Linked DNA regions of Homo sapiens: all the other regions are linked to region 3. Evidence: fine-mapped QTL for protein levels in blood plasma. Region 3 holds a variant in brackets. A gene starts in each other region. All regions are shown on their reverse strands.

Evidence for each region. PIP is the posterior inclusion probability: the model's chance that the variant is causal. The UK Biobank Pharma Proteomics Project read protein levels with antibody pairs (Olink). The fine-mapping took linkage between variants from a reference panel, not from the people measured, so its PIPs are less certain.
Region 1: it holds the start of PYY, and the variant in region 3 is fine-mapped to the plasma level of the PYY protein (UK Biobank, PIP above 0.99).
Region 2: GAST starts here. The variant in region 3 is fine-mapped to the plasma level of the GAST protein (UK Biobank, PIP above 0.99).
Region 4: it holds the start of GIP, and the variant in region 3 is fine-mapped to the plasma level of the GIP protein (UK Biobank, PIP above 0.99).

The regions. Positions count from the first base shown.
Region 1 is chr17:43,952,738-43,955,484 of GRCh38, reverse strand. PYY (peptide YY) reads left to right here and starts at 1,545. Exons shown (of 4, transcript NM_001394028.1): 1 at 1,545-1,635; 2 at 2,002-2,189; 3 at 2,296-2,376; 4 at 2,505-2,747. The coding sequence starts at 2,002. The coding sequence ends at 2,529. RefSeq lists an enhancer at 2,007-2,510.
Region 2 is chr17:41,710,772-41,713,518 of GRCh38, reverse strand. It overlaps GAST (gastrin), which reads right to left and starts at 1,188. Exons shown (of 3, transcript NM_000805.5): 1 at 1,132-1,188.
Region 3 is chr5:96,437,448-96,440,194 of GRCh38, reverse strand. The region is part of intron 4 of LOC101929710 (a long non-coding RNA gene); the gene reads right to left. It also overlaps a transcript of CAST not described here and the pseudogene LOC102724070. Among named protein-coding and RNA genes, the nearest start is that of PCSK1, 5.6 kb to the right of the region's middle. The variant C/A (reference allele first, on the strand shown) is at 1,090.
Region 4 is chr17:48,967,435-48,969,934 of GRCh38, reverse strand. GIP (gastric inhibitory polypeptide) reads left to right here and starts at 1,339. Exons shown (of 6, transcript NM_004123.3): 1 at 1,339-1,418.

The DNA of each region.
Region 1 (2,747 bases), not on the chromosome of region 3:
GACTGGCTGATAAGGAGCCATTTCCGGAGAATGCAGGTGATTGAACCCATAAAATGGTGACAGAGAGCCCTGAACTCCCCATCTCAGGAGAGCTCTAAAAATAGCGCCCACAGCCATCTGTCCTGGGGCTGGAGGGGCTGGCTCAGAACCAAGGGCCTGGACAAGTTGGCCCCATCAGTCCCTATGGGCCGATGGGACATCTGGAAGTACTGGAGGTCTGGCGAGGCCAGGGAGAGGAAGCTGGAAGGGCTTTATGGGGAGACCTTCCCACAGCCCTTTCTCCTCCTGGGCAGGTGGGTTTGAGGGGGTTGGCAGTCTGAAGGTCCTTCCCCTACTCCGCCTCTCAGAGTGGGTGTGGGCCCTAGACTTAGTCTTCGGGTCCCTGCTCCCAGGCCTGCCTCTGGCGCCCCAATGGCTACTCCAGGTGCTGAGCCTTTCTGCCCCTCACAATTGAGAGGTCCTCTTCCTGGGTTCTGCCTCACCCTGCTTTTCCTGTTTGAATTGTGGGTGAGCTTGGCTGCTCCATCACCTCCCAGGGCTTCAGTTTCCTCATCTGGAAAATGGAGATAAACTCAGCTCATCGTCTTGTGATGCCCGAAATTATGCACTACCTAGTGCATAGTAGGTGCTTAATAAACACGAGTCCTTTCCTTCAAAGGATCTGGGCTTAGAGCCCAGTGGAGACTGCCATGGGCTGGGGACAGTGGCATGTGCCTGGGAAGCCTTGGCATCACTCAGGCCCAGAAGACACCAGTGCTCTGAATGACACCTGCATAGGGGTGGAGACACTCTGCCTTGGGAGGGGGCTCTATACCACACATGGCTGGACTGGGGTCTGTGTGTGCCAGTCTGGATACACAGGTGGCCGACTCAGCTGCTTCTGGCGGGGAGATTGGTTTCTGCCTCCTCCTGCCTCTTTTCCAACTCTTTAATAGAGAGAGGACATAATGGAGTGTTCAGAGAGGCCTCTCCCCAAGACACCATAAACTGCAGGTCAGGAGCCAAGGTCAGGTGCTCCCACCCTGCCTCCAGGAGAAAGACTTTCCCCAAAAGGTCCTGTCATTCCTCAGCCCTTCTCCAAGGTATTACTGAACAGAGGCTGAAAAGGGTTGTCTTTTGGAAAGAGTGGTCACACATCCCACGGACTGGAGGGAATGTGTCCACCCTCCCACCCCCAACTCCCATCCACGGACAGGCTAGGGAAGACAGAATCTCAACCCTGGTCCTAGGGGCTGCCCCAGGAGTCTAGATCCAACCGCTTCACTTCCTCAGGAGGCTAGACCTGCCACTGGGGGGCTGTGGGGTGAACATGGGGTTCAGGCTGGGTACCCCATCCAGTGAGACCACGAATCTGAGCATGGCAACTGCCCCCTCAGCTCCTGCGAGGTGGAGACATCACGCACTGGCTGGGTATAAGCTCAGCGATCTGGCGAGGGTGGAAGGAGGGAGGAAGAAGGGCCCACCCCCTGCTGGCTCCCCCTCCCCCTGGGACTCCCCCTCCCTTTCCAGGCGGGGATATAAGCCCCACAAGGAAAGCGCTGAGCAGAGGAGGCCTCAGCTTGACCTGCGGCAGTGCAGCCCTTGGGACTTCCCTCGCCTTCCACCTCCTGCTCGTCTGCTTCACAAGCTATCGCTGTGAGTGGCTGGGGGCTCAAGCCTGGGGAAACCCAGGCTGTTTTGTGGGGAAACTGAGGCTGGGATGGTGGAAGCTGGGGGTGAGTGGTAGGAAACTGGATTGGAGGGGGCCATCGGAGGTGGGAAGGAGGCCAGCAGCGGGGGTGGGGGTGGGGAGGCAGGCAGGGCTTATGCTCCTCTGACATGAGGAAACTGAGTCAGGAGACGGTGCAGTGCCCAAGAACACACAGCAAGCCCGGTGGCTGAGCCTTGGTCCGGTACCAGCCCCAGGGAGAGCGTCGGAGCGCGGCCCCGACGGCAGCCGCAGCCTCCCGCCGTGTAGGGTCGAGGCTTGGAATGACCCACGTCCCAATGTCGCCTTCCCAGATGGTGTTCGTGCGCAGGCCGTGGCCCGCCTTGACCACAGTGCTTCTGGCCCTGCTCGTCTGCCTAGGGGCGCTGGTCGACGCCTACCCCATCAAACCCGAGGCTCCCCGCGAAGACGCCTCGCCGGAGGAGCTGAACCGCTACTACGCCTCCCTGCGCCACTACCTCAACCTGGTCACCCGGCAGCGGTGAGCGCAGGCGCGGAGCGGGACCCCTGGGGCTCTCACCCTGCGGCCCCGCTCCACCTGGGGGCGTGGCCAGATCTGACCACGCTCTTCCCTTCCCCGCCCCCAGGTATGGGAAAAGAGACGGCCCGGACACGCTTCTTTCCAAAACGTTCTTCCCCGACGGCGAGGACCGCCCCGTCAGGTCGCGGTAAAAGCGCCCGTTACCACACATCCTGCATCCGAGAGCGCGGCCTGGCCCTACCCTGGCAACATCACTTAACGACGTCTCCCAGGCTCGCCTCCCCAGATCCAATTCCTTCCCCTTCGCTTCCGCAGGTCGGAGGGCCCAGACCTGTGGTGAGGACCCCTGAGGCCTCCTGGGAGATCTGCCAACCACGCCCACGTCATTTGCATACGCACTCCCGACCCCAGAAACCCGGATTCTGCCTCCCGACGGCGGCGTCTGGGCAGGGTTCGGGTGCGGCCCTCCGCCCGCGTCTCGGTGCCCCCGCCCCCTGGGCTGGAGGGCTGTGTGTGGTCCTTCCCTGGTCCCAAAATAAAGAGCAAATTCCACAGAAA
Region 2 (2,747 bases), not on the chromosome of region 3:
AGGTCTCACTATGTTGCCCAGGCTGGTCTGGAACTCCTGAGCTCAAGCAATCTGCTTGCTTCAGCCTCCCAAAGTGTTGTGATCACAGGCATGAGCCACGGTGCCTGGCCATTAAGTTTTTCATAATCAGGTTTTCTGTTAGGTTTTCTTTGGAAGAAAAGAATTCTGCTGCTGAAGAAATGTTTGAAAAATCAGTGATCTGGAGCTGTATTGTCAGATGCTAACCACATGTGTTGTTCAGTGCTATAGCCACCAGCCACATGTGGCTCTTTACATTTAAATTAATTAAATTAAAAAATTATGGTCAGGTGCAGTGGCTCACGCCTGTAATCCCAGCACTTTGGGAGGCTGAGGGGGTTGGATCACTTGAGGTCAGGAGTTTGTGACCAGCCTGGCCAACATGGTGAAACTCTGTCTCTACCAAAAATATGAAAAATTAGCTGGGTGTTGTGGCAGGCGCCTGTAATCCCGGCTACTCGGGAGGCTGAGTCAGGAGAATTGCTTGAACCTGGGAGGCAGAGGTTGCATGTCACTGCACTCCAGCCTGGGTGACACGGCGAGACTCTATATAAAAAAACAAACAACAACAACAACAAAAACTTCCTTACACTAACCCCATTTCAAGCGCACACGTGGCTAGTGGCTACCATATTGAACAGTGCAGATGAAGACCATTTCCTGCATCATAGGACGTTCTTTTGGATGGCACTGGTCTAGGAAAGGGCTTGAAGTGGGATCCAGGAGCTGTGGATTCCTATCCCAGCCTTGCCTAATAATCCCTGTGACTTTGGGCAAGTCACATCTTGCCTCTGGGCCTCAGTTTTCTTGTCTGAGAGAAAGGAGAAGAACCCCAGTCCTCCTCACCTCCCAGGGCTGGGAAGAGTGTGAAGGGATAGGCTAAGGGCAGGGCCCCGGCTGCGGCAGAAGGGCAGGTGGAAGGCAAGGTTGGGAATACCAGGGTAGGTACTGGAGCCAAGACCTAGTTCCATCCTGGGATAAAGAAAGGGTCCCAGCTCTGGAGACCCCAAGGGGTGAGCCCCAGACTCTGGCCAGTGGCCTGGTACCTTGATGGGGGAGAGGACCTGTCAACCCACTTCCTAGCCTCTCCCCTCTCCTCCTGGGTTTTCTCACCTGCAGAGCTGGGAGGTGTGTGGTGCCACGGCTGGGCCTGGTGCCTCTCAGGTCTCTGCTCTGCTTGATGCTCCAGGCCTGCCTTATAAAGCCCTCAAGGTCCCTCCCAACTGTCCCCCCACCCCGCCCCTACCCTGCCATATGAGTCCAGGCGAGAGGAATGGGGTGGGGCACAGGTACAGCCCATCACCCTGCCCCGCCCTTTCATTTAGTGTCAGTCAGTCATCCAGGATGTGGGGGAAGGATAGGGGAGTTGACCTTCATGGTGAGGGGCTGGAGCGGGGTGGCGGCAGCTCTCCAGCTGTACCTGAGGGGCAGGAACCAAGCTCCCTGGGTCAGGAGCAATGCTTCCCACCATATCCTGGGGGTCAGAGGCCTGGCACTTATCTCTCGAACTACATAGGGACCTTTGTGGGTGGTGGTAGGTGAGGGAGTGAACCCGATGGGCTTAGATTCAGGGAAAGTGGATTTCGCCATCCACTGATGTTTGGCAAGCGTGTGAATGTGGGGTGATGTATTGATTCCCCGTCCCCTCCACTGGACTCTGCAAACATAACGTGTTACCAGGAGCAATGGGTTGTGGGCTGATGGCCCTGTTCTCTCCTTCTAGTGGCTCACATCCTGGTCACCTCTGAAGTCCTTTCACCCTCCCCCTACCATGGAACACCCTTGGTGCCTTCTTCTCCTTAGGCCCTCTGTGCTGGGCTGGGTTTGGCTTGTAGCTGCCCCGTGTCTTCTAGGTCAGCTGCCCATGCACCACCACTTGCAAACCCCCTATGCAGAACCAATTCCTGGAGGGTCCTGCCTTTGAAGCCTCCTTCATTTTGCTTTCAAGGGGAGCTAGTAATCTGCATAACAACTTTTTTTTTTTTTTGAGACAAAGTCTAGTTCTGTCACCAGGCTGGAGTGCAGGAGTGCAGTGGTGTGATCTCGGCTCACTGGAACCTCCGCCTCCTGGGTTCAAGCGATTCTTCTGCCTCAACCTCCCTAGTAGCTGGGATTACAGGCGCACGCCCCCACGCCTGGCTAATTTTTTGTATTTTTAGTAGAGATGGGGTTTCATCGTGTTGGGCGGGCTGGTCTCGAACTCCTGACCTCATGATCGGCCCAGCTTAGTCTGCCAAAGTTCTGGGATTACAGACGTGAGCCACCATGCCCAGCCAACAACTTTTCAGTATCAAAATATACCTTCAAATGGTTAGCAAACAGACTAAAGCATTTGCCAAAGATGGACCAGAAAACAAAATGGTACCTTGTTGACTTATTTGATAAACTGCTGCCTCCACATGGTTTGACCAGATGTAATGAGCCGTAGGCTGTTTTTTACTTTTCCACTGTTGAGAGCAGAGATTTTGCTCCTGTTCATGCGTCATTGGGCCCCCACCTTTTCTGGGAGAGTTTGATCCCCTTGGGTATTGGGTAACTGCAGTGGTACCCATGCTTACAGCCAGCCTTGCTGAGAATTAATGGGTGATGAAGGAAGCAGGCTGTGCGGTGTCCATGGCAACTGACGGCTGAATAACCGTTGTGAATAACCACTCTCATCTAGAGCAGGACACGGTGACTCAGCAGATGGAATAAATGAAAACGACAAAAAGCAGTGCAGGCATTGGTGA
Region 3 (2,747 bases):
ATAAGAAAAAAAAAAAAAAAGGTGGGATAAACATAATTGCAGAAATTCATACTTTGTCTCAGTGTCTGAGAACTGTAGGGGTCACTGTTTCCAGACTAACATTTTCTAGTTTATAAAGAGAAGCCAGAAAACCAGATTTTTGTTAGCTATTTCCTGAGTTTCAGTATCAGAAGCTTACTTAGAACTTTTAAAGTAATGTGCCGTGGGCCACTTCTGCTTTAGTACCTTTGTTTTCTCTTTCAGTTTTACTGATTGTACAATTTTTTTGCCTGTCATAACTGGGATCAGGATTGGTCCCTCTTCTAACCATAATTAGGGACAATTGTTGAAGGTCTTCTTTCCTCTACTTGTTTACAACAGCTTCAAGGATTATATTATTTTAAACAACAAGCAGATTAATCCCTGTGTTCACTGGAGGGAGGTGAGAAACAAAGGGGAAGTTAGGATCAGTCCATTATTATTTATCCCTCAGTGGCACCTGCTAGAAAGCAACCCCGAGGTGACCAATTTCTTACAGTTGGTTCGGGGGTGTGAAGCCTCCACCTTTAACTGTGCCTGATGTCTCTGGGGAAAACACCCTCAGTCTCTTTGCTGGGTGACAAAGGGATAGTTTTCTGCAATAAAGAGTGATGAGGGAAGCTGGGGAAGATTGCTTTTGAAACAGACTTTAAAGCAATCTTTTTTTATTTTCCAACCTATTTGCATCCTAATGTCAAGTTATTTGGTGCCTGCCAATTCCTCAGTCATGGGGAATTCTGAGGCATAGAAAGGGTTAGTTCTTGGCTTTCCCTGCTGCTGGATTAACATTTCATTTTCTTGGGTCTGCTAAATTAGTTGCTTTTTTGCTTTCATAATTTTTTGTGATTGCTTCTACTCCTGTTCTCCCCATTTCATAAGTTTATGTCCTTAAAAAAATCCCTTCTTTGTAGTTTTTGAGGGGTTTTAGTGGGGCATGAAAGGAGACACATATATTTAATCAACCAACTTTACCTGAAAGTATAGTAGCCAAACAAATAGATACACTCTAAGTGTCTTCCGTTACTTGATAAGTTGAAGTATACTTAACACATTTAATGGAAAGCTATGCAA[C/A]CATTATAAATTATGCCAGTGAACAGTTATTGACATGGAAATATATCAGTATATTAAGTGGAAAGTGATAGGTTAATAGCATTAATAATAGTAGCAAACTAAGCGATTTCTCTGTCCTCACCCTTCTGCTAAGTATCTTAAATGGATTATTTCACTTAATCTCACAGAAAAATCTCCTGACATGTGGAATGAGAAGTTATGAATATCACAAACATAAATGTCTATGAAAGTAAAATTATTTTCATTTTCTCCAAAAATATAAATTTGGAGAGTATTACTACATTATGGCTCTCTGCATCATGAGTTTGTCAATAATTTTTACACCGAAATATTATTTTTCAAATAGTAACTTTACAGTGGAGAAATCTGGTTGATATGATACCATCTTAACCAAGTGATCAGAGATAACATCACTAGTAATTAGACATATGGACACCATGTACCTCCTGATACAAGTCAATGAAAATGACATAACATCACTTATTCCTACAAATGTTTAATCCCAGCCTAATCATTAGAAAACACCAGACAAACCAAAATTAAGGACCATAATATAAAATAACTGAATAGTACTCCTCAAAAGTTTTAAGGTTGTGAGAGACAAAGATAAAATATCCCAGTTTGGAGGAGACATAATAACCAAATGCAATAGGGAGTCTTAATTGAATACTGGACCATAAAAGAAGATATACTAATAGAACAGTTGGAAAAATATAAAGGTCTATAAATGAGTTAAGAATATTGTATCAATGTTAATGTTTTGGTTTAGCTAATAGTAATATGGTTACACCAGATGTAAACCCCAGGGAAAGCTGCATGAACGGTATACACAAGTTTTGTGTACTGTTTTTTCTTAATTTTCTGTAACTATAAAGTTATTTCAAAATAAAAAGTTGGAAAAATAAATTATCTTTTTTTAGTTGGCCAACTATACTATATTCTATTCTGGGTGCCACATTTAAAAAATTCTATTGAAAGACCCTATCCGGACAAGAGCAAGCAGAATGCCAAAGTGTTAAAAAGGTTGGGGATGTTTAACCTAGAGCAGAAAAAAGTTAGGCAAGATATAACAATCTGCCTTCGAAGTATGAATTGCTATCATGTATAAAAGAGATTGAGACTTGTCAGTGTGGTACTAGAGGGCAAAATTAGCATGCTTGACTGGAGGTAGTAATGAGGAAAGGTTTTATAATATCATTATAAGGAAGGACTTTGTAACCATTTCAGCCAATCCAAACCAAAGAATGGGTTGCTTTGGGAGACCAGGAATTGCCTAACAACTTGTTAAAAAATATCACAGAGGAGTGTCATGTATACCAGGCATGTTAAGTAGATCAGTGCGTCTCAAACTTTAATTGCGTATGAATCACTACGGACTCATTAACAATGCAGATTCTGATTCAGTAGTTCTGGGGTGGGGGCTGAGGGTCTGCATTTCTAACAAGCTTCCAAGTGATGCCTATAATGCTGGTATGTGGACAAGACTTTGAGAAGCAAGGAGCTGTATAATATTCAAGGTCACTTTTCAATACTAAAGTCTATAATTCTCATAGAAAGACATACTTCAGGAGCAGAGACAGCAGTTATGCACTGAGAGTTTAATACGAAAATGGCAATGTTTGAGAGCACAGAGGAAGCAAGAGCATTGCCTGCAAGCA
Region 4 (2,500 bases), not on the chromosome of region 3:
AGCCCTTGGGACACCTCTCTAGATAATGTGATGGGGGCATTGCCACATCACCAAAGCCATAGGCCACTGTCCAGAGCTGGGATTCAGATGACTGTGGACCTACTCTCTCCCACCCAGAAGTAGCCTGTTGCCTTGTGGGAGTGTCCCCCTGCCAGTTAGTGCCACCCTACCCCAAGTCTGTCTTCACTACAAGTACCCTTTTTTATTTTTATTTTTATTTTTTGAGACAGAGTCTTGTTTTGTCACCCAGGCTGGAGTGCAGTGGCACGATCTTGGCTCACTACAACCTCTGCCTCCAGGTCTGGGTTCAAGCGATTCTCCTGCCTCAGCCTCCCAAGTAGCTGGGACTACAGGCACGTGCCACCATGCCTGGCTAATTTTTGTTTGTTTTTTTTTTTTTTGTTTGTTTGTTTGTTTTGAGATGGAGTCTCGCTCCGTCGCCCAGGCTGGCAGGCAGTGGCGCCATCTCGGCTCACTGCAACCTCCGCCTGCCGGGTTCACGCCATTCTCCTGCCTCAGCCTCCCGAGTAGCTGGGACTACAGGCACCTGCCAACATGCCCGGCTAATTTTTTGTGTTTTTAGTACAGACGGGGTTTCACTGTGTTAGCCAGGATGGTCTCGATCTCGTGACCTCGTGATCCACCCGCCTCGGCCTCCCAAAGTGCTGGGATTACAGGCGTGAGTCACTGCGCCCGGCCCCCTTTCTTTTTTCTTTTCTTTTTTTCTTTTTTGAGAGAGTCTCTCTTTGTTGCCCATGCTGGAGTGCAGTGAACTCGATCTTGGCTCACTGTAACTTCTGCCTCCCAGGTTCAAGTGATTCTCTTGCCTCAACCTCCCAAGTAGCTGGGATTACAGCCGTGCACGACCATGCCCAGCTAATTTTTGTATTTTTAGTAGAGACTGGGTTTCACCATGTTGGCCAGGCTGGTCTCGAACCCCTGACCTCAGGTGATCCGCCCGTGTCGTCCTCCCAAGCGCTGGGATTACAGACGTGATTCATCGCGCCTGGCCTACAAGTATCCCTTCTAACTGAGGGCAACTGTAAAGGAAGTAGGGCATAGAAGAATAGTAGTGGGCCCTGTGCCCAGAAGGGAGGAGGAGGAAGAAAAAAGGGGGTACTTAGGGTACCCTACCCACAGGCAGGCCCCAGACAGCAGCTGGAGATAGCCAAATGTTAATCACCAATTAGCACAGTTCAGGTGGAAAGGGCAACTCTATTATGTGTAAAATGGACTTAATGTGGCAGGAGCTGTGGGCTTAATTTCTTGAGATAAGATGCTTTTAGGCTAATCAGCAGGTCTATGCCTAATATAAAGGAGCTGGGGCATGATTTCTTCAGCAGGCTCAGAAGGTCCAGAAATCAGGGGAAGGAGACCCCTATCTGTCCTTCTTCTGGAAGAGCTGGAAAGGAAGTCTGGTAAGAGAAGTGGAGACAGGGATGGATGAGATGACCCGAGAGCAGATGGATCTTGGCAACCCTGAGATGCTCAGCAGCCCTGGCATCTTAGTTTTCTCTTCCTCTATATGAGATGTGAGAAGATAGTCAGGTGCGGTGCCTCATGCCTGTAATCCCAATACTTTGGGAGCCGAGGTAGGAGGATCATTTGAGCACAGGAGTTCAAGACCAGCCTGGGCAATGGAGGGAAACTCGATCTCTACACATAATTTAAAAAATTAGCTGGGCATGGTGGTACATGCCTGCGGTTCTAGGTACTCGGGAGGGTGAAGTGAAAGGTTTGCCTGAGCCCAGGAGGTCGAGGCTGCAGTGAGCCACGATTGTGTCACTGCACTCCAACCCGGGTGACAGAGCGAAACCCTGTCTCAAAAAAAGAGAAAGAGAAATGAGAAGGTAGCGCTGATGTTTCCTTTATTTATTTATTTAGAGATGGAGTCTCGCTCTGTCACCCAGGCTGGAGTGCACTGGCGCAATCTCGGCTCACTGCAACCTCTTCCTCCCAGGTTCAAGCGATTCTCATGCCTCAGCCTCCTGAATAGCTGGGATCACAGGCGCGCACCACCACACCTGGCTAATCTTTGTCTTTTATGTAGAGACAGGATTTCACCATATTGGCCAGGCTGGTCTCAAACTCCTGACCTCAAGTGATCCGCCCACCTGGGCCTCCCAAAGTGCTGGGATTGCAGGCATGAGCCACTGCACCCAGCCTGGTCCATCTTTTGGTAAGATTCCATGTCCCTTCTAGTCACTAACTCCAGTGCACAGCACCCCTCATCTTCCCCCATGGTGTTGCCCCAGGCTCTTAGAAAAGGTCCAAACTGGCAAGGCGCGATGGCTCACGCCTGTTATCCCAGCACTTTGGGAGGCCCAGGTGGGCAGATCACAAGGTCAGGAGTTCGAGACCAGCCTGGCCAATATGGTGAAACCCTGTCTCTACTAAAAATACAAAAATTAGCCGGGAGTGGTGGCACATGCCTGTAGTCCAGGCTACTCGAGAGGCTGAGGCAGAAGAATGGCTTGAACCCAGGAGGTGGAGGTTGCAG